4 linked regions of the Homo sapiens genome follow. The protein of the gene in region 1 interacts with the protein of each later gene in a pairwise test. Each region holds a gene or a part of one and is shown on either strand. Other genes may lie near its edges.

Region 1 (7,983 bases):
AAAACAGGAATTTAGGGCATTTCAGTAATTATTGCACAGTTTTCACGTTTGAAAGTGAACCTCAAACCATTCGATCTTTATTGATATTTTTCTAGTAAAGTCTTTCAGTTTTAGAATATTTTTAGCCCTAATAAATAAAAATTACTAAAGGCCTGTACTTCAACTAAGCAATGCTGGAAAGGAATTCCACTTAAGTGACTCTTTTTAAGGCAAAAACCAGGAAGCTGGTGTGTGGACAAGAGCTTGGGTCAGAGGCACCACCTTAGGGAGGTACACGGTCAACCAGTGGCTCACAGTGAAAAGCGCTTCCACAGCAAAACTCCATGACCTTTCTCTAGTCCCCAAAGGTTACCACGAAAGGACAATAGACAGCAGATTCCCTTCTTAATTAACATTTTTATTAAATAACCCATTTCAAATAATGGTTAAATTCTCTAAATTTATATCATTCTATTAACCATAATCTAATCTCATTAACCTTGAAATCCCAGTCTTAACTACCCAATTCTATACACCATGGTACTATCTACTAAACTAATTAAGTGACCTTCAAACTATTTCTCCTCCATACAAAAATCATTTTTTATTTTTTGCTCATAGTTTTTTGTTGGATCTCTCTTGATATCATTTCCTGTGAACTTGGTTGCTGAAGGCCCCAATCTGGGAAGAACTTTCTTATCAAAATCAAATCATATATAATAATCTCACTTTACTCACTCAAACTGGTTTATTTTGCAGTGCTCCCCTGCCTGTCCCCAACCCCACCCTCTAGCTGCCTAGTAGCTTGCTGCCTCTTTTGTGGCCTAAAGATCCCGTGAAGGGCACTGTCTACGGTGGTTACACAGCCAGGAGCATGGAGTTCTATCCTTTAATCTCCACCTGATGGGAGTTGGGGGAGGGCTGGGGGTTGGGAAGAAAATGACAGGAGATCCCTCTCTACCTCCAGGCTTCTCTGAAGCAGTGTCCTTGACTTTAAATGCCACGGCTCTAAATACTGATTCTAGATTACTCTAGTTCTCCTTTTTCACATCGCTAAGGCTGGTGGAAGATACAAGAGGCTTACTGTTAATTCTCGCTTTGCTTTTTCTTCAACACTCTGGTCAAGCAAAAGAAAGATTCCAGAGCTGTACTTGCACTTTCTTACGAATATGCACACAAACTATATTGCTTTTCTTCAGCCCCACCTTCATAATAGCCCCCAACCTCAAGATGCTCTCAGCTTTCTCTCTCTTTTTTTCTTTTTCTGAGACAGAGTCTCACTCTTTCACCCAGGCTGGAGTGCAGTAGTGCAATCTCAGCTCATTGCAAGCTCCGCCTCCTGGGTTCAGGCCATTCTCCTGCCTCAGCCTCCCGTGTAGCTGGGACTACAGGTGCCCGCCACCACACCCGGCTAATTTTTTTGTATTTTTAGTAGAGACGGGGCTTCACTGTGTTAGCCAGGATGGTCTCGATCTCCTGACCTCGTGATCTGCCTGCCTCGGCCTCCCAAAGTGCTGGGATTACAGGTGTGAGCCACCACAGCCGGCTACTCTCAGCTTTCTAAATTTGTCATCTAAACCTTTTAGACAGGCTCATGCTGAAGTGGTTTTCAGAAACACAAGAAAATTACTATCTTTTCTTGGGTCTCATCTTCATCAAAATAACCTTAGGCCTTATGACTGCCATCCTATGTGCAATCGGAGTAAAATATGTTAGACAAATTTTGATTGTTTATTTTTATTTATTTATTTATTTTGAGAGAGAGTCTTGCTCTGTCGCCCAGGCTGGAGTGCAGTGATGCGATCTTGGCTCACTGGAACCTTCGCCTCCCAGCTTCAAGCAATTCTGCTGCCTCAGCCTCCCAAGTAGCTGGGATTACAGGTGTGCACCACCATGTCCGGCTGATTTTTTTTGTATTTTTAGTAGAGACGGGGGTTTCACCATGTTGGCCAGGCTGGTCTCGAACCCCTGACCTCAGGTGATCCACCCGCCTCGGCCTCCCAAAGTGCTGGGATTACAGGCATGAGCCACTGCACCTGGCCTTGATGTTTTAAAAAGCAGCCAGGGCCGGGCAGGGTGGCTCATGCCTGTAATCCCAGCACTTTGGGAGGCTGACGCAGGCAGATCACTTGGGGTCAGGAGTTCAAGACCAGCCTGGTCAACATGGCGAAATCCCGTTTCTACTAAAAATACAAAAAATTAGCTGGGTGTGGTGGTGAATGCCTGTAATCCCAGCTACTTGCAAGGCTGAGGCAGGAGAATCACTTGAACCTGGAAGGCGGAGGTTGCAGTGAGCCGAGATTGTGCCACTGCACTCCAGCCTGGGCAATGAGAATGAAACTCCGTCTCAAAAAAAAAAAAAAAAAAAATTAGGGGGAGCCTGCTTTTCCGGTACACAGTTCCTCAGTACAAAGCATGGGGCTTTCTGTCAGCAGAAGCCTCCCAGTGGGAAACCAACCTGAAGTAGCAGGAAACAGACACCAACCCTAGGGGTAGGGAAGATAACCAACAGAAGAAACAAAAACACTTCTAGGATGACTAGTACGTGTATGGTTATTGGTGGCTATCACCTTGGAAGTACAGGCATTTTAGCATCCGTAATATTAGACACAACACAAAACCCCAATCCAATCAATCATCAAAGAATCCTAGAGTTAGAGACAATCCTCAGTCTTCTGTTCTCACATCCCTCCCAAAGGGGAAGCTTGCTGCACATGTGGGGTGGCTTACCTGGGGCACTGTTGGGGCACCTCATGATATCTGATTGGTTGCTAAGCAGAAAAGAACCAAATTCCTCCATGCCCTTCATATCTTGGAATGGCTCATCTGCCCATCAAGATCAGCCCAACCAATGAGACAGACCACCTCGGTTAGCTGTCATGTTGCCAGGTGGCCAAGCCTTCCTGTAATCTCACCTGAACGCCCTCTCCTGTGAGAGCTGAGCAAGACTGGATCTGCCAGACTCGGTCGCGGATGGTATGCAGGTTCAGTCCTTCTGCAATTTCAGAGGCAGGGGCTGCTGTGAGCAAATCCTGCTTATTAGCAAAGATGAGCACTGGCACACAACTTAGTTTTTCTTCCTCCAGTAATTCCGCTAGTTCCTGGATTTTGAGAAGGGAGAGGGAGGGAAGGTTAAAATCTATACATCTATGATATTTAACCATACACTACTTTTTTTTTTTTTTTTTTGAGACAGAGTCTCACTCTGTCACCCAGGCTGGAGTGCAATGGCGTGATCTCGGCTCACTGCAACCTTCGCTTCCCAGGTTCAAGTGATTCTCCTGCCTCAACCTCCTGAGTAGCTGGGACTACAGGCATGCACCACCACACTCAGCTAATTTTTGTATTTTTAGTAGAGACAGGGTTTTGCCACGTTGGGCAGGCTGGTCTAGAACTGCACACCTCAGGTGATCCACCCACCTCGGCCTCCCAAAGTGCTGGGATTACAGGCGTGAGCTACCATGCCCGGACAACCATGCAGTTCTAATCAGAAAAAAAAATAACAGTTAAGCTGATCAACTAGCAACTTTCAAGAGTAGTGATTCTCAAACTTTTTTTTTTCTTTCTTTTTTTTTTTTTTTGAGACAGGGTCTCGCTCTGTCGCCCAGGCTGGAGTGCAGTGGCGCAATCCCGGCTCACTGCAACCTTTCACCTCCCAGGTTCAAGCAATTCTCACCCCTCAGCCTCCTGAGTAGCTGGGACTGCAGGTGCACACTACCATGCCCAGCTAATTTCTGTATTTTTAGTAGAGATGGGTTTTCACCATGTTGGTCAGGCTGGTCTTGAACTCCTGGCCTCAAGTGATCTGCCCGCCTTGGCCTCCCAAAGTGCTGGGATTACGGTGTGAGCCGCCGTGCTCAGTCTGATTATCAAACTTGAACCTGTATAAGATTCCCCTGGCAGATTCCTGGGCCCAACCCAGAGATGCTGACTTTGGAAAGTCTGAGCTAGGGCTCAGGAATTTACTTTTTTTTTTTTTTTTTTTTTTTTTTTTGAGACGAGTCTTGCTCTGTTGCCCAGGCTGGAGTGCAGTGGCGCGATCTCGGCTCACTGCAACCTCCGCCTCCCGGGTTCAAGCAATTCTCTGCCTCAGCCTCCCAAGTGGCTGGGATTACAGGCGCCCACCACCATGCCTCGCTAATTTTTTTTGTATTTTTAGTAGAGACGGGGTTTCACCATCTTGGCCAGGCTAGTCTTGAACTCCTGACCTTGTGATCCACCCCCCACCTTGGCCTCCCAAAGTGCTGGGATTACAGGCGTGAGCCACCGCGCCCGGCATAGGAATCCACATTTTTAGCAAACTCCTGAAGTGATTCCGCTACAGATGATTCACAGATCACTTTTTTTTTTTGAGACAATATCTCACTCTGTCATCCAGGCTGGAGTGCAGTGGTGCGATCACAGCTTACTGCAGGCTCAACCTCCTGGGCTCAAGCAATGCTTAACTTAGCCTCCTGATCAGCTAGCTGGGACCTCAGGTGATTGCCACCATGCCCAGCTAATTAAAAAAAAATTTTTTTTGGCCAGGCGCGGTGGCTCACCCATGTAATCCCAGCATTTTGGGAGGCTGAGGTGGGCGGAGTTCGAGACCAGTCTGACCAATATGGTGAAACCCTGTCTCTATTAAAAATACAAAAATTAGCTGTGCATGGTGGTGGGCACATGTAGTCCCAACTACTTGGGAGGCTGAGACAGGAGAATTGCTTGAACCCAGGAGGCAAAGGTTGCAGTGAGCTAAGATCATGCCACTGCACTCCAGCCAGGGTGACAGAGTGAGATTCTGCCTGGAAAAAAAAAATTTTTTTTTGTAGAGACAGGGTTTTGATATATTGCCCACGCTGGTCTTGAACTCCTGGGCTCAAGGGATCCTCCTGCCTCAGCCTAACAAAGTGCTAGAATTATAGCGATGAGCCATCACACCTGGCCCATAGAACACTTTTGAGAAAATCATTCAAGGGAGAAGACAAGAAGTGGTTTGAGATTCAAAACTTACCCAAGGTTATTACCTGCAAATAACTTTCAATGCGTGTGTGTGTGTGTATGTGTGTGTGTGTATGAAATTTAAACTGAAAATGACAATTACTTTAGAGATAATTCTGTTTCATCAATCTCTATCTCTAAAACATGCATGCACATGCTTCACATTTCATCAAACCTACATCCTAAAATAACTTTATTGGTCCATCTGGCAAGGTCCCTGATATTTAGGTTATAGGTTGGGGTCTAAACTATATGTGATTTTGTTTACAAAAACTATAGGAAAGGGTGTATATGTACTTAAATGATAGGCCCCACCTTTTCCTCATTAAATCCACATTTTAGCTACTTAAAACACATGGGCTTTCAAAGAGAACTGTATGGATCAAGAGGCAGATGACTACATAGGACCCCCTCCACCTCCAAGCTCATTTCACATGAGTGATAATCCAGAAATCATCAGGGTATGGAAGGGTGGTGGGTTGTTTCCAGAAGTCTGGAGAGTTCTCAACTCAATTTCAAAAAAAGGGACATAAACATGAGAACTGCTACCTTTGGAAGGCCACCTGTGGTCATTTAGGACACAGGCCAAGGACTCTGCAATGATAACTTTTTAAAAAACTTTTTTTTTTTTTTTTTTTTGAGAGGGAGTCTCACTCTGTCACCCAGGCTGGAGTGCAGTGACACAATCTCGGCTCAGTGCAACCTCTGCAGTGGGTTCAAGTGATTCTCCTGCCTCAGCCTCCAGAGTAGCTGGGACTGTACAGGCACGTGCCACCACACCTGGCTAATTTTTTGTGTTTTTAGTAGAGACAGGGTTTCACTGTGTTAGCCAGGATGGTCTTGATCTCCTGACTGCAAGTGATCTGCCCACCTCAGCCTCCCAAAGGGCTGGGATTACAGGCGCGAGCCACCGCACCCAGCCCTTGGCATGTGCATTTTTTCCTGTCCTTTCAGATTTGTCAAAGTTACCCCTGAATCAATTAAGTAGGTATTGAAAAATGTAAATAAAAATGAGAAGTGACTTGTTCCTCTGGGTTCGTTTTCACATGGCCTGGGAAAAAACCTGAAGAGCCTTTGGGCATGGTGCTAAGTTCCACTTGTCTGTATCTCATATATTCAATTTGATTAAAGCTAAAAAGCTTTAATTAGAAAACTGTTTAGGCTGGGCATGGAGGCTCACGCCTGTAATCCCAGCACTTTGGGAGGCTGAGGTGGGTGGATCATCTGAGGTCAAGAGTTCAAGACCAGCCTGGTCAACATGGTGAAACCCTGTCTCTACTAAAAATACAAAAAAATTAGCCGGGCGTGGTGGCGCACGCCTGTAATCCCAGCTACTTGGGAGGCTGAGGCAGGAGAATCACTTGAACCTGGGAGGTTGAAGTTGCAGTGAGCTGAAATTGTGCCATTGCACTCCAGCCTGGGTGACAAGAGTGAAACTCCGTTTTGGAGGGGGGAAAAAAAAACTGTTTAAAGAACTCTCAACTAATTTCAGACAACTGGTATTTTTGCCTGCTTGCTAGAATAACTGTCTTGTTTGAACTGTAAAGGTTAACAAACAAAACAAAACAAAAACCTCCCTCACTCTCACACATTTACAAGGTTGATTAATGAATACCCAGTTATTTGGGAACTATCTCAACAGAAGAATTAGTATTTAAAAAATATACTAGGCTGGGCGTGGTGGCTCACGCCTGTAATCCCAGCACCTTGTGAGGCTGAGGCGGGAAGATCACCTGAGGTCGGGAGTTCAAGACCAGCCTGACCAATGTGGTGAAACCCTCTCTCTACTAAAAATACAAAATTAGCCAGGCGTGGTGGTGCATGCTAATTCCAGCTACTCGGGAGGCTGAGGCAGGAGAATTGCTTGAACCTGGGAGGCGGAGGTTGGGGTGAGCCGAGATCATGCCATTGCACTCTAGCCTGGGCAACAAGAGCAAAAACTCCGTCTCAAAAAAAAAAAAGTACATACATATATATATATAAGAACTTTGATATAAAAAAGAATTATTTACCTGACCCGTCTCTTCAAATCTTTTTCTGTCTGCACTGTCGATTACATATATCTATAAAGGAAAAGAAGAAGGTTATTTCAGTGAGCAGAGATGGAAAAGACAGGGCAATTTCTGCAAAAGGAGCAGGTGATCCCCAATCAGCATATTCCAATTAGCACAACATACAGAAATTGACTGGTGAGTCTCATCTCATTTATGAAGGCCAAACAAACAAATACACAAATTAATTAAATAGGGATGCCCAGAAAATACCTTCAGCAATGCTCCAAAGTCTAGGATTTAGGAAAACCAAGTGGGATAAAATAGCTACATTTAATGGGCACTTGATGTTGTCACTAAACATTACTAGGTCTACTCTATTAACCCTCATTACAACTCTACAATATAGATTTCACTATTTTCCTTTTTTTTTTTTTTTTTTTGAGACAGAGTCTTGCTCTGCTCTGTCACCCAGGCTGGAGTGCAGTGGCATGATTTCGGCTCTGGGTTCACCCCATTCTCCTGCCTCAGCCTCCCCAGCAGCTGGGACTACAGGCACACGCCACCATGCCCAGCTAATTTTTTTGTAGTTTTAGTAGAGACGGCGTTTCACCATGTCGGCCAGGCTGGTCTCGAACTCCTGACCTCAAGTGATCCACCTGCCTCAGCCTCCTAAAGTGCTGGGATTACAAGCATGAGCTACTGTGGCTGGCCTACTTTGTTTAAATTATGTTAAGTTTAAACACAAAGCTGATATTAATAATAATACAGTAAATGATTAGTAGTAACATGAATATATCTTGAAAAGACATTTATATCTGTCAAAAGGCTGTTATTATTTCTCGGCCTAAAGAGAAATGGAAGATACCCTATCCCCTCCCTTCCATCACACTTCAAGTTTTATTTCTTAGACAAACCCTCAAATTAATAAAGCTCATGTCAGATGTTCTCAATGTCGTCTTCCCTAAGAATAACTCTGGTACTTCTAGGAGTTACTCTTAGTCTTTCAAACCTCTTTTTTTTTTTTTTTTTT
Region 2 (5,877 bases), on another chromosome or scaffold:
AGGAGTTCAAGACCAGCCTGACCAACATGGTGAAACCCTGTCTCTACTAAAAATACAAAAATTAGCTGGGCGTGTTTGTGGACACCTATAATCCCGGCTGCTTGGGAGGCTGAGGCAGCAGAATCACTGGAACTCGGGAGGTGGAGGTTGCAGTGTGCCGAGATCGTGCCATTGCACTCCAGCCTGGGCAACAAAAGCAAAACTCCATTCCCAAAAAAAAAAGAAAAAAAAAAGGGTGAAAAACCAATTTGCCTTTATCATCGTTTTTTCATCATTTAATCTCTGGACTTGTCCACTGGCCTTTTCTCAAGTAGGCAGGCTGGTCCACAGGTCTTAGCAAGTGCTCCCAGCATGCCTGGGCTGTGGTGGACCTCCCATTTATAGACAAAGCAAGGGAAAGCAAGCCCAGGAGAGGTGGCATTTAAAAAAAAAAAAAAAAGACCAAAGCAATAATTAATAACCTTATGGCAGTGGCTACATTAAAGAAAGAATACAACTCATTGAGAATGGTGGTTCTTGCGAAACACCTGAAGTTTTACTCATGGTACAAAAGTATTTAATAAGTGACACATCAGTACAGAAACACAGAGCTTGTAGCTTGTCCTTTAAAACCAGAATGGCCAAGTGAAAAGTCAGTACAGATTCTTATTTTTACTATTAAAAAAAAAAAATCAAAGGGACACACTGGGAATTGAACTACTATGCTTTTTCTTCGTTCTAGAGATGACATATATGTTTTCTGATAAGTAATCTACCACACATTGCACTAAACCAAAGCATACAAACAGCCAGTAAAGCTGTGCTCTACCTGCTACTCATGCTGGGCTGGACAGTGGAACACCATCTTGGTAGGAGAGATTTTGACAGGAAGAAACTGCAGAGTCCCTACCTAACCCAGAGAACCTTACAAACTGGTTTATACACAAAGGATTTTCAGCAAACATGCAAACACACTAACATGCTATAGGAATATGTTTTAGTCTATTTCTAGCACACAGCATACATTCATAGGTGCCCAGTAAAATAGGAATGAATGTCAATGTAGAAAGCATTTTTGCCTTCACAGTACTAACAAACACCTAAAAAGCACACAGCATATAATACTTTGATCTTTAAGTGGATAATCATGGAAGTTCCAAGATCACATCCACTAGGTTAGCCTGAGTATTCATCTATAAAAATATTTTTTTTTTCAAAAATAATGCTTAAAAGAGACTTCTAGAAACAGTGGGACTACATCAGGACCAGAAGACAGTGACACAAGGACTGCAAATGTTAAGACTAGGAGTAGCTTTTCACATGGAGCTTTTATGTAGAGGACGTCTCCTTCTGTTGATTCCTACAGCCGAGACAAGATGTGATCACAGGAGACTCCAAAATCTCAAACTGGGCTTGAGTAACACCCTAGATAAACATCAGGAACCCCACTGAGGCTGAAGTACTGAAACTGTGGCCCATGTGAAAAAGAGGTGCAAGTGCACAAAGATTCATGCAGAGCCTGCTGGAACAGAGGGTGGTGGCGGCGGGTTAGTCCACACTTACACACCAGCAGGTATGCTGGGGAAGGGCCCCCCAGGTGGAGTGCCTGACATAGGGCTCGCTCCAGAGGCGTCTGACTCAGAAGCTCCTGAGAGAGGTGTCTACTTGAGGTGGGGAGGAGTACTATGGTTAATGAATACAAGAAGGTGTTTCAGGATAAATAGGTCCAGGAGGGTTAGGTCATTTTGGTTTTGACCTATTAATACTTAACATAAATGAAGAGTTACATAACAGAGTCAGTCTTTCCAAGATGTGTTCTGTCATCATGAGCTGAGCCTATTGGGCTGGTGACATCCAGAATGATCCCATTCATTGGCTGGAGGTAGGACCTAGTGCCGCAGATTGTTCTGGGAAGCTGGCAGAGAAGATGATTTGCACAATGAAGTCACCACTAAGCCACTGCTTAAGTCCAGTCCTCGGCCTTCTTTTTCCTATATGAGAAAACAACCAAAGGAAGGACTAGAAAGAGCCCTGGCTTGGAATCTTGCCTCTGACATGGGGAAGGCAGAGCTGAAGGTGGGAACGTGGACCTCCAGAGTACATAGGAAGGGAACACAGGTTATTGGTTATTCTGCATTTCTGCTCAATACTGGCCTGCCCTAGTCTTAATTTTTTTTAATATTATTTTTAAAGAGGTAGGGTCTTGCTCTGTCACCCAGGCTGGAGTATAGTGGCTTGATCACAGCTAACTGCTGCCTGGAATTCCTGGGCTCAAGTGGTCCTCCTGCCTCAGCCTCCTGAGTAGCTAGGACTACAGGTGTGCACCACTACAGCTGACTAACTTTTTTATTTTTATTTTTGTAGAGACAGGGTCTTGATATGTCACTTAGGCTGGTCTTGAACTCCTGGGCTCAAGTGATTCTCCTGCCTTGGCCTCCCAAAGCGCTGGAATTGTAAGTATGAGCCACTGTGTCCAGCCTGGCCCTGGTCATTCTTAAAATGCACTCTTAAAATGTACCTCCCTTCACTGGAAAACATTTTTCTTTCTTTCTTTTTTTTTTTTTTTGAGATAGGGGTCTTGCTATGTTGCCCAGGCTGGAGTGCAGTGGCTATTCACAGGCACCACTGCTGTGTAATACAGCCCCAAACTCCTAGGCTCAAGTGATTCTCCTGCCTCAGCCTTCGAAGTAGCTGGGACTACAGGCATGCACAACCACACCCAACACCATTTCTTTTTCTTTTCTTTTTTTTTTTTTGACACAGGGTCTGACTCTGTCACCCAGGCTGGACTGTAGCAGTACAATCACAGCTCACAGCAATCTCAACCTTCTGGGCTCAAGCGGTCCTCCCACCCAGCCCCCAAAGTAGCTGACTGGGACTACAGATGCACACCAGCACACCAAGCTAATTTTTGTATTTTTCATAGAGACAGGGTTTTGCCATGTTGCCTTGGCTGGTCTCAAACTCCTGAGCTCAAGCCATCTGCCTGCCTCGGCCTCCCAAAGTGCTGGGATTATAGGTGTGAGTTACCATGCCCAGTCTCCTATTTTTCTTATAAAGAGCTTGCATTATATGAAAAGCAAGGCAGGGCCAGGTGCGGTGGCTCACGCCTGTAATCCCAACACTTTGGGAGGCCGAGGCGGACCATGCTTCAGGAGTTTGAGACCAGCCTGGCCAACATGGTGAAACCCTGTCTCTACTAAAAATACAAGAATTAGCTGGGCGTGGTGGCAGGTGCCTGTAGTATCAGCTACTCGGGAGGCTGAGGCAGGAGTATTGCTTGAACCTGGAAGGCAGAGGTTCCAGTGAGCCAAGATGGTGCCACTGCACTCCAGCCTGGGTGACAAGAGCAAAACTCTGTCTCAAAAAAAAAAATAAATAAAAGAAAGGCAAGGCAGAATGAGACCTGAGACCTGCTTTTTCGGTTTTGTCCTTCTGATTAGGAACTCTAAGTTGGTACCTGGGCTTGTTTCATGAAAACATGAGAAGGTCCCAGCCACAACAGAATAGCAGCTCACTCTTCTGATGCCTCATCGGCCAGTTTGAAGGGAGAATGATGGGGGAAGCGTGGGAGGTTCATGTTCGGTATTTCTACCTGGAATTTTCTAAGTGGCTCAAAGTGGCTAAATAAATAGGAGTAGTAACTTACTGCTCTGTAGTCCAAAAACATTTCTTTAAAAGCCAGAAAATCTGTGAAGGTGAGCAGCATGTCGAATATGTCACCAGCCACTTCATCCTTATGGTGCCTGCAAACGGAACAGATGGCTGTTTCGTGAATGAATGATGAGACAGTCCTCAAGATTGCTTTCGTTTTTCTTTCCACCACCCCAGCCCCACCCCCCGCATTATTTTTGTTTTGTTTTTTTAGAGACTGGGTCTTGCTCTGTCACCCAGGCAGGAGTGCAGGGGTGCAATTATAGCTCACTGTAGCCTTGAACTGCTGGGCTCAAGGGATTCTCCAGCCTCAGCCTCCTGAGTAGCTAGGCCCACAGGTATGCAACACCACACCTGACTAATTTATTTTTTGTAGGGTCGGGGCCTCACTATGTCACCCAGGCTGGTCTTGAACTCCTGGGCTCAAGTGATCCTCCTCCCTTGGCCTCCCAAAGCACTGAGAACACAAGCGTGAGCCAATGCCTGATCTTTTCAAGATTTCATTAAAAGGTTTGAGGGCTTCCTCCATAGGACCTAACCACCAACGGCATGCACAGGAAAACAAACAAGGAGCGTCTTTTGGTCAGCCTAGGGAAGGAAGAAAGTGAGAAAACAAAACAAAACACAAAAATCAGTCAAGCTCAACTCACTGTAATGTTGTGGTGAAGGCTGCCATGTTGAACTCAGGAATCCGCTGCAGCAGCTGTTCTTCAATGTATTTTTCTACCAAAGAAATCTGCAACAGTGGAAAGGATTTTGGTGAGACCATACTTTGGGAAAACAAGACTTCTTTTCAGAAAGCCTGCCCAGCCCTTTCTAAACATTTCCTGAGGTCTGTGTGCCACAATCTACACTGAGTGCCAAGGATACCAAAGAGGACCAAAACACAGCTCCTGTCCTGGAGAAGTACTCAGCCTGGTGTGGAAGAGAAGCCTTAGCTGATAATGGTGCTGTAACAGGGTGGATGCTCTGACACAGGTGGAGACAGTGAGTAGCACGGTACCCACACCCACAACCCAGTGCAGGATGCAGTAAGTGGGGGCTTTGCCTCCTGGGTAGAGGGCATCTGTGTAACAGAACATACGGACATGGAGGCAGTCACAGGTTCCTTCTGGGCAGGTTTGTTTATGCCATGCTTCTGTGTTAAGAAAATAAAGTCCTGGAGGCCAAAATGGATTCTTAGATGACAGAATCCCAGGGGGCTGTTAAGAGGCCTCAGGGTAAAGTGTAGAGACCCAAGGGTGACGAGCTGAGGTTCCTGGGTTCCAGTCTTGGTTTTTCCACCAAATAGTTAGTGATCTTGGTCTCAGTTTTCACTTTTACTTAATAGTCATGCATATATGACTGGATTATATAGAAGAAAGAAAGAGTATGTGAAAGCAGAAAGGTTTGTCAAAAGCATGCAAATGCAAGGTATGAAGAACTCATGTACTGTGATTAAAAGCAGGATTATGATAAGCCAAACGTCTTTTATTTATTATCTTTATTATTATCATTTTTTTTTTAGAGACAGAGATCTTGCTGTGTTGCCCAGGCTGGTCTCAAACTCCTAAGCTCAAGTGATTCTTCCACCTCAACCTCCCAAATAGCTGGCACTACAGGTGTGCTACCAAGCCCAGGTCAAACTTCTTTTAAATAAGAAGCTGATGAGTTAATCAAATATTTGCCTGAAAGCCTTTTGGAAAATAGCCCCAAAGGCTGTGCAGAGGAAAATGAACTTAAACCAGATGCTAATGAGGATTCCTGGAAGTGTACTGGTGGCATATTTTAAAAGGCAGCAAATTTCAATGTCTTTTGAATCTAAATTTAAATTTTTAAAAACTCTGACCTCCTGGTAGGAGACATAGAAATCTACTTACGTATTCATTAAAAATAGGTGTGTAGATGAGTTTATTCTCTTCTGTGTCTTCAAACTCCAGGTAGTACTTGTCCATGAAATTTCTCTGTAATAACTGGAACTCGTCATCTGAACCACAGTGGGGAAAATTTATTCTTTTTAATGGAGATTACCAACCATTATGATTTATAAGTAGGCAGGATCTATGTCAGCAGTACTGCTTTCTCAATGATCAGTCTCTGGAAGGAAAGCTGATGTTTTAAGGGGGTATTAAATGGGACCCTGATGTGGAAATAGCCCAATCCTCCTGTTTTCTTTTTCTTTCTTTCTTTTTTTTTTTTTTTTTTTTTTTTTGAGCTGGAGTTTCTCTTGTTGCCCAGGCTGGAGTGCAATGGTGCGATCTCGGT
Region 3 (7,983 bases), on another chromosome or scaffold:
ATACAAAAATTAGCCAGGTGTGGTGGCATGAGCCTGTAATCCCAGCTATTCGGGAAGCTGAGGAAAGAGAATCGCTTGAACCCAGGAGGCAGAAGTTGCAGTGAGCTGAGATCACACCACTGCATTCCAGCCTGGGCAACAGAGCAAGACTCCGTCTCAAAATAAAAAAAGAAGCCAAGAACACCTCTCTGGCAGCCCATCAGAGTGGGGGCTGAGCACACAGGACCACCTGCCTCCTATGTCTGCATGGGCTCCATTGCTGCAGCCCCTGCCTGGTGGCTGGCCGATTTTACCAATTTCAAAGTGCCCAGGGGGTGGAAGATGCTTACATTCCAGTCCAGTGAGGTGACGTCTTTGTTACTCGGGACGTCATGGCCCCCCTCTCGTATACAGTGCCTCAACACGAGCTGGGTGGAGCCCCCGTTGCTATTCTCATTCAGGTTCCATATCCTTGCAGTTGAGTCTCCAGATCTACAGAATAAAAACACAGGAGCCTCTGGTGTTTGGTTCAAATGGGATAAGAAGCTCTCCACAGCTTGCTCTCTGGCCAGAGGGCATCTTCAGCACATGCTCTTCTGTCTTTTTCATCCCTCTGGATCCCTGTTTCCCTCTTTGCCATCTTTGCATTTGGTAATTTAAGTGCTGCTGTGTTCCTCACCACCACATGGAGAAAACGACTTGGAACTATGGCTTCTCCACAATATGAGACATGTAGAGAAGTGGCTCATAGAGCCACCCATTCCTTGGTCTGCCCACACACCGGGGTAAGAAGGGGAGTGTGTGTTCCTTTAGGCAGAACTCCAGAGAAGGGCGAGCAGCTTGCATCTCCCATCTCCCCAACTCTGGAGCGCCCCCCACCCTGACATCCTTACCCGGAGGCTAGCAAATCACTGACAGGATTCCAGGCACAAATGAACACCTCAGACTCATGGCCCCGAAGGACTGTGGCTTTGCTGGATGGAATCTCAACCTCTCCATCTATTTCCATTGGCTTCGCGTGATTATCTGTCACAGCAAACACAAAGAGACAAGTGGCTTACCAATACAAGAGAAACACACTTAAAGGGCTCTTTTGTTTCCAGAAACATTTTTTTTATGTACTAAATACTACCTCTGATGATTCCTTTTCTTTTTTTTTTTTTTTTTTTGAGACGGAATCTTGCTCTGTCGCCCAGGCTGGAGTGCAGTGGCACGACCTCGGCTCACTGCAACCTCCGTCTCCCAGGTTCAAGCAATTCTCATGCCTCAGCCTCTCAAGCAGCTGGGATTACAGGCATGTGCCACCACACCAGGCTAATTTTTGTATTTTTAGTAGAGGCGGGGTTTCACCATGTTGCCAGGGTCGGTCTCAAACTCCTGGCCTCAAGTGATCCACCTGCCCCAGCCTCCCAAAATGCTGGAATTACAGGCGTGAGCCACCACGCCCGGCCTACCTCTGATGATTCTAACGAAATCGTGGCTTTAGTGCAATTTAGTAAATATTTTAGGTTTCTTTACATTTTGACAGTCTCTAAATTTCATTGAGGAATAAAAACAGTTTGCTAAGTGCAGTGGCTCACACCTAAAATCCCAGTGCCTCAGGAGGCTGAGGAGGGAGGACTGCTTGAGACCAGGAGTTCAACAGCAGCCTGGGCAACATAGCAAGACCCCATCTCTATAAAAACAACAACAACAACAACAACAAGAAGTTAGCCAGCCCTGGTGGTGCACACCTGTAGTCCCAGCTACTCAGGAGGCTGCGGTGGGAGGATCACTTGAGCCCAAGAGATTGAGGCTGTAGTGAGCTATGATTGTGCCACTGTACCCCAGCCTGGGTGACAGTTATTTTTTGTAACTGGGGCCAGCTAACTACAGCCCATGATCCAAACCTAGTCCCTGGCTGCTTCTGCATAAATAAAGTGTGACTGGCACACAGCCACTGCCCATGTTTTCAAATTGTCTATGGCTACTGTTATGGGCTAAACTATGTCCCCCTAAAATTCATATCTTGAAGCCCCAATTTCCAGGGGCCTCAGAATGTGGCTGTATTTGGAGATAGGGCTTTTGAAAAGGTGAGCAGGGTAAAAGGAGGTCACAAGGGTGGGCCCTAACCCAGTGGGACTGGTGTCCTTATGAGAAGAGGAGATCAGGACACAGACACAACCAGAGGAACGAGCACGTGAAGACATGGAGAGAAGACAGTCTCTACAAGCCAAGGAGAGAGGCCTCGCAAAGGAACCAGCCCTGCCCACACCTTGATCTTGGTCCTCCAGCCTCCAGAACTGTGAGAGCAAATTCTTAAACAGCCTGGTGTGTGGCCTTTTGTTACGGCAGCCTGAGCTGACTCTCACAGCTGTTTTTGCACTCTGACAGACTTCAGCAGCTGTGACAGAGACTGCATGACCCTCAAAGCCTGGGACATTTACTGTCTGTCCCTGTAAAGAAAGTTTGCTAGACCCTGGTTTATGCTCCTGAGAAAGGAGCAATATAGCCTGATCATCAAACAATTAGCCATGGTTAACAGTTTCACAATACGGTGAGGAATTGAGCATGCTTTGTCATATGTCTTTCGTAAAGGTGCTCTGGTGGAAAACCCAGGAAACAGAAGCAATGTGATCTTAGGTTACGTGTCACTGAGTAGGAGTGCTGTTTATGTAAAAAATAAGAAAACGCCTGGTGGTCCTGCTTAGCTCGAGAAGCCTGATACAAAAGATTCAAACAACAATGGGACTCTTCAATGTTGGTGTTTCTTCCATGCTCTGAAAGTGTCATCTGGCTGGAAGAGAGGAAAAACATCTTTCTGCATGTGGCAGACCCACTGTCCCTGGTGATGGCAAGAGGGAAACTGGCATCTTAGCCAGCCACGCAGTGGCAGGGGGCCTGGTAACTCCAGGCAGGAGTGACAGCCAGTATTTTCATTCTTATCAAAATGCGGCCTTCCAATGCTCCTGTCTCCATAGACTGGGCTGTGGGTCAGGCACAAGATGCAGGGTTTGAGAAGGGGGTTGGGGTGGCTGTTCCAGAAGTTCAACCAGGGTGAACTCTGGCCACATGCACAGAGGAGGAGGGCCAGACTCTTCTTTTCCTGCCCCACAATTGTGGACCTTATCAATAGAAGGCTGGTAAGAGGTCTTTTCCTTTTACCTGAGGCAGGTGGCCTTTCTGTCACCCTATTGCAATAGAAACGTTATTAACAATCTGTGAACCTTCCATTAAATGCTGGATCTGCTTCTCCAAGAATTTTTTAGCTGGTGCCTGTGGATGGTAACTTGTCACAGGGCTTGGCTCGGGCTGCAGCCTCATCAGAGGCAGCCGGCTGGCTCTCTACACACCAGGAAGTTGTGGAGCCAAGACGTACCAGGTAAGACAGCAACGTCATAGTCAGCTCGATCTTCAAGGACTGCTGGGCTGCATGGCTGCTCCGAGGGCAACAACTTTCAAATAAGGAAGAACACACACACATACACTACACCATGCACAGGTGTGCGTGCGTGCGCACACACACGCACACAAACTTGTGCACACACACGCACAGGAACACAGGTGCGCACACGCATATACGCGTGCACGCACACACGCACACACGCACACATACACGCACACGCATGCATACACACTTGCACACAGACACAGGCACATACACATGCAGATATACACATGTACAACATACATATGCACCCATGCATACCTGTGCATGCAAGTGCATGCGCGCACACGGTGCGCCATGCACGGCACATATGCTCGCTCTGAACTTGCACCCTGAAGTGGCGTCCCTACGGGTGTATAGAGCAGTATGTCTAAGTGGAGCAGGTTCTCTGGGTAGAATTTTGGGCTCTCTGACTGGCCACATACTCACAGGCAATCACCTAACAGGGACTGATGTCCTGGGGTTTTGCAAAGACCAAATAAGCCTATGCCCAGTCTCTGGGGCCCAGTGCCCTTGGCAGGAACTGCAAGCTCAATAATTATACCATAATTTGGCCAAAAACCCTCAACATGGAAGGCTGGAGGCTGAGACTAAAGGTGTCCATGAATGAAACACTTTTGTTTATCACGGGCAATAATCATGTGTTACATGAGAGTTCTCAGATTAGCAGGCGCAGCACGATTTCCTAAAGTTGAAGATGAGGGTGAAGAAGCTCAGGTCCAAGGGTTGTGATGGAAAAAATGGAACGGGAAGTTCTTCCGGCCAGATCGTAAGCAAACACTAGAGAGCAGCTTCTAAGACATTTATAGCAGGCAGGTTTTTAAGAAGGCATTCGGATTTGCCCAAGAAGAAAACAATGAACCCAGAGAGGCCCACCGAACTCCCAGAGCCCCTGCACTCACTGACTGAATGTGCTCTGTTCTCTTCCCCATTCACCGTGGCCTCTCTGTTCTTCGATGGATTTTGGTGGGAAACGCCGGCTGAGGTCGTGGTGGCTGCTGTCGCTGCTGCCGTGGCCGCAGCCGCCGCCGCCGCCGCACTGGCTTGCTGCTGAGCGAGCTTCTCTCGGAATGCCTGCTGCCGCGTCTGCACCACGTCGGGCATCACGGCGTCTATCAGTGACAGGGACTCTATGGGGCGGCCGTCGAACACTGTGCCATCCTGGGGAAGCAAGCCAAGGTACAGCTGTCAGCTCACGGGGGTGAGGGCTCTGGGAATGGCCTCTGCTCTCTGGGCAGGAGAAGCGCAGGGAAGTGGGGCGTAAACAGCTGGCTCCCAGCAACCAGGGGGCCACGGGGGAAGCGGCATGGACCTGGAGCCTGGGGTGAAGGGATCCCACGGTGGGCAGGGAAGGGGACACGACAAACTGTTGGTAAGAACTAAGTGTGATGGTTGTTCTGAGTGTCAAACCCAATTGGGGCATTGAGGACAAAAAGGCCATTTATTCTTGACAGAAAGTGCTATCCCTGATGGCACAATTCTCAACGTGGCGGGGGCGGGGGGTGACTGTGACTCCTTGGGGGGCATTAGGCAACGTCTGGAGACTTTTTTGGCTGTTACAACTAAGGGAGGAGAGGTGCTCCTGGCATCTGGTGGGTGGAGCCCAGGGACGCTGCTCAACATCCAACAGTGCCCAGGATGGCCCCACCACAGAGAAACACGCAGCCCCAAATACTGAGTGCTGCGGTGGAGAAGACCTGCCCACGTGCTATCGCGACTGTGCAAAATCTCTGCAAATGACCATCCATTATATGGGAGGGTAACGCTTCAGAAGCAGAGCCCAAATGAGATGCACACAGCATTTAGGCCTGGATTCCAAGTCCATCTGTCCAGGGGATTTAATAAAATAGGCACTTGCTGCTACTTGAAATGACTCCTTGGGTTCAGGGTTAGACTAACCATAGCCATGACACAATTGACATCATTTTGTTTTGATTCATGTTTTTTTGACCATTCTTTGATTCTCTGATTTCCGTTTACCATGGAAAACTTTCCACACACGTTTAAAAATACAGCAGGAGGTTCTTTCCTTGTGAAACACGCCAGATATTCGAATCAGGTGAACCTCAGTAAGCCTTGGGGTTGTATCTGGATGTGCAAACACATGTTTATATGCTCTGAACCTGAATTACTTCAGAAGTGAGGAAGAACTGAAAGGCTCAGGTTTCAGCTGAAGAATAACTAAATGAAACATCACTCCAGATGATTTCTGATTACAAGACAATATTCAAAATAAAGAAAACAATACAACCTATGTAAAGAACTAGCTGCATCACCTCCTCAGGCACTCTTGGCCCTTGATTCTGGCCATGGAGTGGACAATGGTGACCGATGGGTCAAGACGCTCCCACACCCCCTTCCTCCTTCATATGTTCACACCCAAATGAACAAGCCCATGACAAAACGCGGTAACTGTCCAAAGTAGTAACAACATGTCCTCATTTAAACTCCGCGGGCACACTGTCTCTCTTTTTTCCTTAGAGACGGGGTCTCGCTCTGTCATCCAGGCTGGAGTGCAGGGGCACAGTCATGGCTCACTGCAGCCTCAAACTCCTGGACCAAACTGATCTTCCTGCCTTAGCCTCCGAGTAGCTGGGGTTACGAGCATGTGCCACTGCACCTGGCTAATTTTTTTTATTTTATGTAGAGATAGGGTCTCATTATATTGGCCAGGCTGGTCTAGAACTTCTGGCCTCAGGCAACCCTCCTGCCTTGGCTTCCCAAAGTGCTGCGATTACAGATGTGTGCTACCGCCCCTGGCGTCTCACTTTTTAATGATTAGAAACCATTGTGACAAATGGGACAGTCTTTCATTAGCCCCTAGAGTGCTGGAATCTGGAGTGCCGAGGGAAGGCAACTATGAAGGCTTCTCAACAGATGAGAGGTAGAAGGCAATGAGCAGAGAAAAACAGAGTCACAGGCGCCTTGAGATCTGATGGCTGGCTGGACCTTGGAGACATGTCCTCTTAGATACACACGTGTGTGTTTTGCAGTGAGGAAACTAGACAGGGCCAGAAGGAGTCAGTGGAAGATCCCGGGCACACAGTGTGAAGGGGTTTGCCAGGGAAAAAGGAGCACAAGAGAGGAAAAAACACCGGAGTTTCGAAAGCCACAGCTTTGCGAAAAATGGCAGGCAGAAGTGCAAGAAAGAAAACAGGGACTGGGTACAGTGGCTCACGCCTGTACTCCCAGCACTTTGGGAGGCCAAGGCGGGAGGATCGCGGGAGGATCGCTTGAGCCCAGGAGTTCAAGACCAGCGAGACCTCATCTCTACAAAAAATAAAAAAATTATCTGGACGTGGTGGTGTGTACCTATAAGTTCCAGCTGCTCAGGAGGCTGAGGCAGGAGGATCTTTTGAGCCAGGAGGTTGAGGCTGTAGTGAGCTATGATTGTACCACTGTACTCCCACCTGGGTGACAGAGAGAGACCCTGTCTTAAAAAAAAAAAAAAAAAAAAAAAGAAAAGAAAAGAAAAAGAGAACAGGATATTATTACTTTGTGATTTTCTAAAAGAGTTTTTTAAAGCAGTGTAACATGCTGTGAAGGAGAAAGGTTTGTAAGGGCAAGACCAGTTCCCAGAAAGACGGGACAGAGGGAATCCTGGAAGAATGTGACTGCCAGGTGGGATGGATGACGGTACAGTATGGAAAAGTTCAGTAGAATCACGCGCCTGGGTCAGAGTAGGAGAAAGAGAAGCAGAGGGAGGAAGCTGCAGGGGACTGAGAAATCAGTAACAGGGACTGTCTGTGGTCCCAGTGCTTTGGGAGGCTGAGACAGGAGGATCACTTGAGCCCAGGAGGTCGAGGCTGCAGTAAGCCATGACTGTGCCACTGCACCCTAGCCTGGGCAACAGTGTGAGACTCAGTCTCTAAAAATAAAATAGGGACTCAGGTGAAGGCGGCAAGAAAGGTTGTGGATCCCATTATTCCCCAGAAGTCAAGGGGATCTTCACTGCAGAATCATGAGACCAGAATAGGAGGGGACAAGAGAGGGTGAGGTGTGTGGTTTAAAACCAAAATTGGTATAAAATTGGCACAACTCCTCACTGTGGACCAATGTAAAAAGTGGGAGGGGTTCCAAGCCAAGTGCACAGTTTTAATGTGCATTTATTTTTCCATCCTCCTACCCCATCTGCTCTACAACGAGCCCGGTAATGAAGGCATCCCTTGAGATCCTCATTAACACCAGAGCCATCACCTCTCTGCCCTGACGCAGCCTCTGGTGATGCCCTCTGCCGGGTTCTGCTGAAATACAGATTCCACCTGACCATGTGTGGGGCCCCTCTCTAACCAACCTGCTCCAGAAATCAAGAAGAGACAGCAAGTCTGCATTAAGTGCAAGGCAAACGTCCACTCCGAAGCCCAGAGCAGCTGAAGATCTGCCGTATCTTTTTCAGATGTGGCGGTGTAAGTGTTTACATCAACTAACAGCCAGTGATTCTACATTTAAGTCAAAAACACAGAGCCATGTGGGAGGGGCACTGGAAGCTTGCTGCTGTGTGTCCACACAACCGGTATTAACACAAAGTGGAAAAGAACCCAACTTACTTTCTTCTTCTTCCTTTTTTTTTTTTTTTT
Region 4 (7,983 bases), on another chromosome or scaffold:
CACATTTTCTGTAAGGGGCCAGATGATAAATATTTTAGGTTTTGTAGACCACATATGGTCTCTGTCATATATTTTTCTTTTGTTCAAGTATTTAAAAATGTAAAAATCATCCTTAGCCTAAGGGCTGTACATAAATAGGCTGTGGGCTGGATCTGGCCCACAGGCCACAGTTTGCCAACCTCTGCCTCCTCTAATGAGCAGATGGGTGTCTTATTAGGAGCCTCTATAGTTAAGAATTTTTATCAATATTTAACTCATTTTTAAAAATACTGGTCAAGCACTTTAAATAACTTTTGAGTTCCAACATAAAACAAGTAACCCTCAAGTTCTTACCAGCTCTTTCGGACTTTTCTTTCTGTTCCCGTAATTCCTCTCCCTGGGTAGTCATCTGTTTGATGCGACTACGGAGTTGAGCAATTTCTTCTTCTTTCATTTCCAGGGTTTCATGCATCTGACGTTTTGTCTCTGCGATTACCATTCCCTGAATAGAAGTGAAGACTCTAAAACATTTGCATAACAAAACTGCATCATCAACAGCACAGATAAAACTTAATTTAAAAGGCAGAAAAAGGCCGGGCATGGTGCATGGTGACTCATGTCCATAATCCCAGCACTTTGGGAGGCCAAGGAGGGTGGATCACCTGAGATCAGGAGTTCGAGACCAGCCTGGCCAACATGGCGAAACCCTGTCTCTACTAAAAATACAAAAATTAGCCAGGCATGGTGGTATATGCCTGTAATCCCAGCTACTCAGGAGGCTGAGGCAGGAGAATTGCTTGAACCCAGGGGGCAGAGGTTGAAGTGAGCTGAGATCACGCCATTGCACTCCAGCCTGGGTGACAGAGTGAGACTCCGTCTCAAAAAAAAATTAAAAATTAAAAAACAAAAAATAAAAGGCAGAAAAAATGATATTTCTTGCTAAGTACAGCATAACAATTATTTCAATACTTCACAAACTGAGGTCTGTTTTCTGCTCTAATCCTATTACCTAGCATAACAGTATTTTTTACATTAAAAATTTTAATAGTTTAATCCTTAAAGCATTAAAACATTATTACTTAAAAGATTTATTTTATAGCCTTTCTACAAATGTGCTATCTGTCTTAGTAAACAGTTTATAATGAACAAAATATAGTCTTCTGAACCTGGCTTGGCACTACAATAAACTACAAGTATTGATCTGTACTATAACATGGGGATAACCCCAGACACTTGAGAATGGAAGGTGCCTGCTGCCACACTGGATAAAGCAAAATCCCAGGACACATCTACCTGGTTCTTCTCTTTCTTCCTGTGACTGTCTCTGGTACCACCACTATTCCTTACTTTGTAAGGCATCTCCATTCCTCCAACTTGCTAGTTACTTCTGTTCCCTCTTTCTGGATAATCTACACTAGAAATGGAGGTCGGCAGGGGAAAAAGACAACTAAATGGTATACAGTAAAAAAGTCATTTAGGACTAACAAAAAATGAGGTGGTTCACTTGTCTCTTGAAAAAATGTTCAGACTTTGTGACAACAATTTCATGGTCTTAAGATTAGCACCCTCTCCACAGGGTTTGCCAACCCTTGCTTTAGAATATGACTCTTCCAGATGGCTAATATTAATGGAGAGACAGAGAGATAACAACCACGTAAGTGAGGCACTGCTATATGAAATCTCAAAACAAAATCATGGGCTTTCAGTTTCTTCAAAAACCAAAATATAGTGGAAAGAGAAGGAGAGAAGATAATCAAACCAGTAAATTAAAAGAAATCTTAAGAGTCATATCAACCAATTGCAATGAAAAAACTTTATTTGGACCCTGATTCATAAAAGAGCAAAAAATATATGAGAAACTAGAGAAAATCTGAAACTGACTAGATAGCAGGTCATATTTTAAAATTATTAAATTTTTAGATGTGATCATGATAATGTGGTTATAGTATTGTAAAAATAATGTCTTTTATTTTAAAGATATATTAAAATACTTTTGGAAAAAAATGATAAAATTTCTTGGATTTGCTCTAAAACAATTCTGGGTGAGTAGGACAATGACAGTTGAGAAGGTACAGATGAAACAAGATTAGTCATGAGATGTTAACTGTTGAAGCGGGGTGGTGGGTTCAAAGAAATTCATTTTAGCAGCTTTTCTTTTGTAAATGTTTTAAGTTCTTCATTATAATATTTAAAAAAAAAAACAATTTAAGTAGGCCCTCAAGAAGTGTATAATCTAGCAAAGCAGTATTATCAAAAGGATGAAAAAGATTGCCAATACATTTTAACAGCAGGACAGCTCTGACATGTTCTTAATTACGTGACCACTTAAAATACTCTAGTGATAACCCGGCATATTAAAGAAAATGGTGGATGCTATGGAACAAACTGGGAGCTGCTTAGAAAAAGGACCCAAGAACTTGGAGCTGAAAGACAGGTCAAAACTGTTTACCCATGAATTTTCTGGTTGTCTTTGCTGCGTAGCTTTAGCTGCTGCTCCAACTCCAAACTACCAAAGGTAAGACTCATTCCTTCCTCAATCCTCTAATCTCATCTACACATTCTAAAATTCATTTGTAGACATTTTTATTTATGCTAATATATACATTATCACTTATTTTTGTTTGTTGTTTTTTTAAGAGACAGGGTCTCACCCTGTCACCCAGGCTGCAGTACACTAGTGTGACCATAGCTCACTGTAGCCTCTAACTCCTGGGCTCAAGCAATCCTCCTGCCTCAGCCTCCCGAGTAGCTGGGACCACAGGCATATACCAACATACCCAGCTAATTTTTTTTTTTTTTTGTAGAGAGGAGGTCTTGCTTTACTGCCCAGGTTGATCTTGAACTTCTGGCTTCAAGCAATCCTCCCGCCTCAGCCTCCCAAAGTGCTGAGATTAAAGGCATGAGCCACTGTGCCCAGCCCCTTATTTATTTGTTAGGCAACTTATCTGAGAGATTAATCTGTTTCCATATTATCTGAAAGAACATACTGATATCATTCACATTTATAATGCCTTAACTATAAATAACTTTTCTCTGTAAAGTAGTTATGTACTATAAATATAAACTTCCTTTGCAACAGTTATTCTAGTCTACAAATCATAATGCTGACTGGGATCAAGAAATCAGAGAATCAGTTTTACATGACACAAAACTAATGCTAGTAGTTACAAAAATCTAGAAATTAAAGATTTTTCATGGAAAAAGCTGCAATAATTTTTAGAAAACAGAAACAAGCATGAATGTTTCCAACTGTTTCCAAAAGTAAATGTTGGGGCCTCTTGACAAATTTTAGTATCATAGGTTTTGTTGTTTTACCTTATCTTGTTCAAGCTGTTCAATTAAGTTCTTTGCATCACGCAACTGAGTGATAAGTTTAGTCTTCTCGGCCATATGAAGGTCCTAAAAAAAATTTTTAAATTCATTTCCATCTCTAATAAAGCTTCTTCTCATTTGAGAACTCTAAACATTTATCTAATTTATATACATGTTACAGTGCAGAAGGAAAAAAGTACACAGTAAGTCTCAAGGTTTGGTGTTATGTAGGCCAGGGCAAACAAAAATGCCCTTTCCATCCACTCTCCTCTCCCGGAGGTACAAGCCATGCTGTGGAGCCTGTGGATCTAACTTTATAGATTAAATTAGAACAAAACTCATCTGCTCTTTTACCTTTATCTTTTCTAGTTCTTGAAGTCTTTCATCCAGTTGTTCTTGCAGAGCTTCTTTTTCACTAGTTAATAGTGTACATTGTTCCTTATGTGACTGAATTGTTTCCTTACAACGCTTAAGTAGGTTCTCTTGACGCTTCACTCTTTGCTGGAGTGTTTCCAGTGTTTTTACAGAAGTTCCATCTTCCACTAACAATAAAGCAACATAAGAAGGGCCCATCAGTAAGGAATATGAAACTGCCTTTGGAAAATTATGACTGAGACAGTCAAAGAGATCTAATCTAACCGACTCCATCTTGGTTCTAACCTTTAAGCTGTCATTGTTCGTTCCTGGGTGTAGGCTGAACTAACTTTGGGAGAACTTAGTTTATAGTTTATAGTCTAAAACAAAGACAATAAAAGCCATTTCCCAAACAAACCCCCTTCTTGCCTGGAGACTAGATTGCCTTTGTAGGACTAACAAATTAGCCAAAAGATTAGAAATTATCATTTAGGAGTCATGCAGCTGAAGGCTACAAGATTCTGACCACCACTAAACTGCTCCTAATATCACTGCTTGAGATATTTTGCAGACCCTGCACTTGATGGATCAGCTGGCAACACCCAGATCGATAAATTGGCTCATCTGATCTTGTGGCTCCCACCCAGGAAGTGACTCAGCACAAGAAGACAGCTTTGATTCCCTATGATATCATCTCTGACCTGACCAATCAGCACTCCTGGCTCACTGGCTTCCTCCCACCCACTAAATTGTTCTTAAAAACTCGGATCCGTGAATGCTTGGCGAGACTGATTTGAGTAAAATAAAACTCTGGTCACGTGCACACTCGGCTCTGCGTGAATTACTCTTTCTCTACTGCAATTCCCCTATCTTGATAAATCAGCTCTGTCTAGGCAGTGGGCAAGGTGAACCCTTTGGGCGGTTACAAATATAAGGACACTTCCAGGAACAGTCTGTTACTACACAGGTGTGTATTCCCTCTTTTTTTTTTTGAGACGGAGCCTCGCTTTGCCGCCCAGACTGGAGTGCAGTGGCATGATCTCGGCTCACTGCAACCTCCACCTCCCTGGTTCAAGCAATTCCCCTGCCTCAACCTCCCAAGTAGCTGGGATTACAGGCGCACACCACCACGTCTCGCTAACTTGTTTGTATTTTTAGTAGAGGTGGGGTTTCACCATGTTGGCCAGACTAGTCTCGAACTCCTGACCTCAGGCAATCCGCCTGCTTCAGCCTCCCAAAGTGTTGGGATTACAGGTGAGAGCCACCACGCCCCACCAGGAGTGTATTCTTACACCAATATTCTGCTATACTCTTAGATGAAGAAGGGACAACCCTAGTCAGCTAATAAACTGGCACCCTTCCAAACCTCTACTTAGTATTAGTTGTTTAATCTTTATCTGAAGAAGCTTAGTAGTAATTCACCTCTTTGAGGTTCAACCCCATTCAGAATGGCACAGTAGTTAACTAACATTAACTGAATCCACCCTCCTTAAAATGACAGTTTGATAATCATCTTTTGTTATTCAAAATTATGTGTCTTAGCTCACCTCCCAAAAGGATTAATAAAGTACGGTATTCTTTCCAACCACATTCTAATCTCTTTCTGAGAGGAGTTCTGGTAAGTGCAACTTTCTCCATCTCTTTACATTTATGAGTCTGAAGTTTCCACATGTCTGGGAATTTCGGGACTGGCCCCGCCGCCCCACCACCCCACCATAGTCTGGTTGCTCAGATAGTTAACTGCTCAACTACTTACTCCAAGTTTATCATAAGTCCCTTTGAAAGAAAAAGCTAGGAAATAAAAGACGGGAATTTTATTGCGTATATACCTCAAGCCTCAAAGCAAAGAAGGCTGTAACTGAATTTTAAGACAAAATATAGCTATTTCTTCTTTTTCCAGTTAAAAAGCAATTAATAGGACAAATACAAATATCTATGAATATAGAACTATTTAAGCAATATTTAAAAACTAAAATATCCAAACAATTACAAATAGCCCACTTATTAGCATGTAAGCAGAACTGACCTGTTCATATGAAATCTAGCTACTGCTATTAATAAAACAGTGTAGCATAATAAATGAATTTCAATTACAATGAAAATGTGGTGTTACAGACTATGAAATTTTTGCATATTAAAACAACTTTTTTGGTTGGGCACAGTGACTCACACCTGTAATCCCAATACTTTGGGAGGCTGAGGCAGGTAGATTACTTGAGATTAGGAGTTCGAGACCAGCCTGGCCAACATAGTGAAAGCCCGTCTCTACTGAAAATACAAAAATTAGCCGGGCATGGTGGTGTGTGCCTGTAATCCCAGCTACTCGGGAGGCTGAGGCAGGAGAATCGCTTGAACCCAGGAGATGGAGGTTGCAGTGAGCCGAGATCATGCTACTGCACTCCAGCCTAGGCAATAGAGTGAGACACCATCTCAAACTAACAAGCAAACAAAAAACACTTATTTTCTCCTAAATAACAACAAAGAACCAAAAAAACAAAACAAACCCTTGCATCTTTCTGAAACTATTAGGACCACGGACACTTCTACCTCAGCCCATATCTATCAGCTCACATCCTGGAATCTCTCAAAATCCTCCTCTAGGTTTTCTTGGGGTTTCATTTTTGTTTTTGTTTTTCTTGTGGAGAAGGGTTTTCTCTATGTTGCCCAGGCTGGTCTCAAACTCCTGAACTCAAGCGATCCTCCCACACTGGCCTCCCAAAGTGTTGGGATTAAAGGTGTAAGCCAAGGAGCCTGGCTCTCCTCTAGTTTTTAAATTAACCTTTTGACAAAATGAAGCTTACCTACTGGCTCTCCATCACTTTCTGGATTCTCTTCTTTAGTGAAGACTTCAGCCTGTGGTTCCAGCTGAGGAAGTGGTTTCAGTACATCAACATTCATCGGGCCATTTCGTAATCGTTGTTTCAGTAGAGAAACCTAATATAAATGTGCTTCATTAGAAAAAAGTCAAAAAAAACTATGGGAGTAGTACAATTGTCCCTTGGTATCTGTGGGGGATTGGTTCCAGGATTCCCTGTTAATACCAAAATCCGCAGGAGCTCAAGTCCATTATATAAAATGGTGTAGTATTTGCATATAGCCTACACACATCCTCCAGTATAATTTAAATCATCCCTAGATTACATAAACTACCTAAATAATGAAAATGCTATGCAAGTAGTTGTTGTACTACATATATTTTAGAAAATAATGAGAAGAAAAAAAGTCTACATGTTCACTACACATGGTTTTCACCCCCTAAATATTTCTGATCCAGTTGGTTGAATCCACACATACAAAAACACATCAATGTGGATGGCTTATTGTACTTTATTTAAAACAGAGAGAGGACGGATTAAATGATATTCTTCTTACTAAAGTGGGGGAAAATAATCAAAATAAAAAGTTTACTCCCAATACAGCTGGTTTTTATATTTGCTATTATTATTATGCAGTTAGTCAAAAGATACAATAAATAAAAAAGTATCCTTAACATTAACTGAAGAGCTAGGAGTGGTGGCTCATGCCTATAATCCCAACACTTTGGGAGGCCAAGGCGGAAGGATCGCTTGAGCCCAGGGGTTTGAGACCAGCCTGGGCGACATAGTGAGACCCCATCTCTACAAAAAATTTAAAAATTAGCTGGGCGTGGTGGCATATGCCTGTATTCCCAGCCACTCTGGAGGCAGAGGCTGGAGGATTGCTAGAGCCCAGGAATTTGAGATTGCAGTTAAGCTATGATCACGCCACTGCACTATAGCCAGGGTGAAAGAGCAAGACTCTGTCTCAAAAAAAATTAAAAATAAAAAAAATTGAGGAAAGCAAAAAGTTTTAAAAATAGGTCTTAAAAAAGAAAAAACTTTTGCAACCTTGCAGATATCCAAATCAAACCCCCTCTATTTTTCTTTATCCAAAAAATTCCACACTTTTTCTTTTACTCTTTTACCTGAGTTTGGAGAACACTGATATACTGATCTTTCTCCTCTAAAGATGCATCAAACTCCTCTTGCAGATGTTTCTTTGCCTGCTGGTCCATTTGGAGCTCCTAAAACATAAAATGATTTACAGGTAATTTTCAGTATAAAACAAAAAATACAAAGTTTTCAAAATTTAAAAACATGTTGAATACAGATTTGCATTCCCCTTAAGGTATCAGCAACAATAATTAGAGAATAATTAGTATGTAAAACATTAACATTATTTAAAACATTTGCATCAACAAATGATTTTGTTCCTTAAAGAATATGAAGATCCAAGAAGAAAAAAGTGTACTTTCCAGAGCTGTAATGATGGCTGCACTGATAATAATGTGGAGAAAATAAATAATCACTTAAGACAGGC

The links.
Region 2: the proteins of ARL3 (region 1) and ARL2BP interact in binary tests that used the Homo sapiens proteins (3 or more experiments, as listed by UniProt).
Region 3: the proteins of ARL3 (region 1) and TBL1X interact in binary tests that used the Homo sapiens proteins (3 or more experiments, as listed by UniProt).
Region 4: the proteins of ARL3 (region 1) and GOLGA4 interact in a two-hybrid assay, tested with the Homo sapiens proteins (one study listed by BioGRID).

What each region holds. Positions count from the first base shown.
Region 1 is NC_000010.11:102,682,922-102,690,904, forward strand, and holds part of ARL3 (ADP-ribosylation factor-like protein 3), read right to left. Parts: intron 7,023-7,983; coding exon 6,972-7,022; intron 3,081-6,971; coding exon 2,895-3,080; intron 1-2,894. UniProt on the Homo sapiens protein: Small GTP-binding protein which cycles between an inactive GDP-bound and an active GTP-bound form, and the rate of cycling is regulated by guanine nucleotide exchange factors (GEF) and GTPase-activating proteins (GAP).
Region 2 is NC_000016.10:57,248,259-57,254,135, reverse strand, and holds the end of ARL2BP (ADP-ribosylation factor-like protein 2-binding protein), read right to left. Parts: exon of another isoform or gene 5,600-5,877; coding exon 5,493-5,599; exon of another isoform or gene 4,370-5,492; coding exon 4,284-4,369; exon of another isoform or gene 4,165-4,283; intron 3,726-4,164; coding exon 3,629-3,725; intron 2,433-3,628; exon of another isoform or gene 2,344-2,432; intron 1,971-2,343; coding exon 1,869-1,970; 3' UTR 501-1,868; downstream 1-500. UniProt on the Homo sapiens protein: Together with ARL2, plays a role in the nuclear translocation, retention and transcriptional activity of STAT3. May play a role as an effector of ARL2.
Region 3 is NC_000023.11:9,684,601-9,692,583, reverse strand, and holds part of TBL1X (F-box-like/WD repeat-containing protein TBL1X), read right to left. Parts: intron 4,568-7,983; coding exon 4,309-4,567; intron 1,006-4,308; coding exon 873-1,005; intron 472-872; coding exon 330-471; intron 1-329. UniProt on the Homo sapiens protein: F-box-like protein involved in the recruitment of the ubiquitin/19S proteasome complex to nuclear receptor-regulated transcription units. Plays an essential role in transcription activation mediated by nuclear receptors.
Region 4 is NC_000003.12:37,294,683-37,302,665, reverse strand, and holds part of GOLGA4 (golgin subfamily A member 4), read right to left. Parts: intron 7,688-7,983; coding exon 7,589-7,687; intron 6,580-7,588; coding exon 6,447-6,579; intron 3,834-6,446; coding exon 3,646-3,833; intron 3,379-3,645; coding exon 3,295-3,378; intron 482-3,294; coding exon 334-481; intron 1-333. UniProt on the Homo sapiens protein: Involved in vesicular trafficking at the Golgi apparatus level. May play a role in delivery of transport vesicles containing GPI-linked proteins from the trans-Golgi network through its interaction with MACF1. Involved in endosome-to-Golgi trafficking.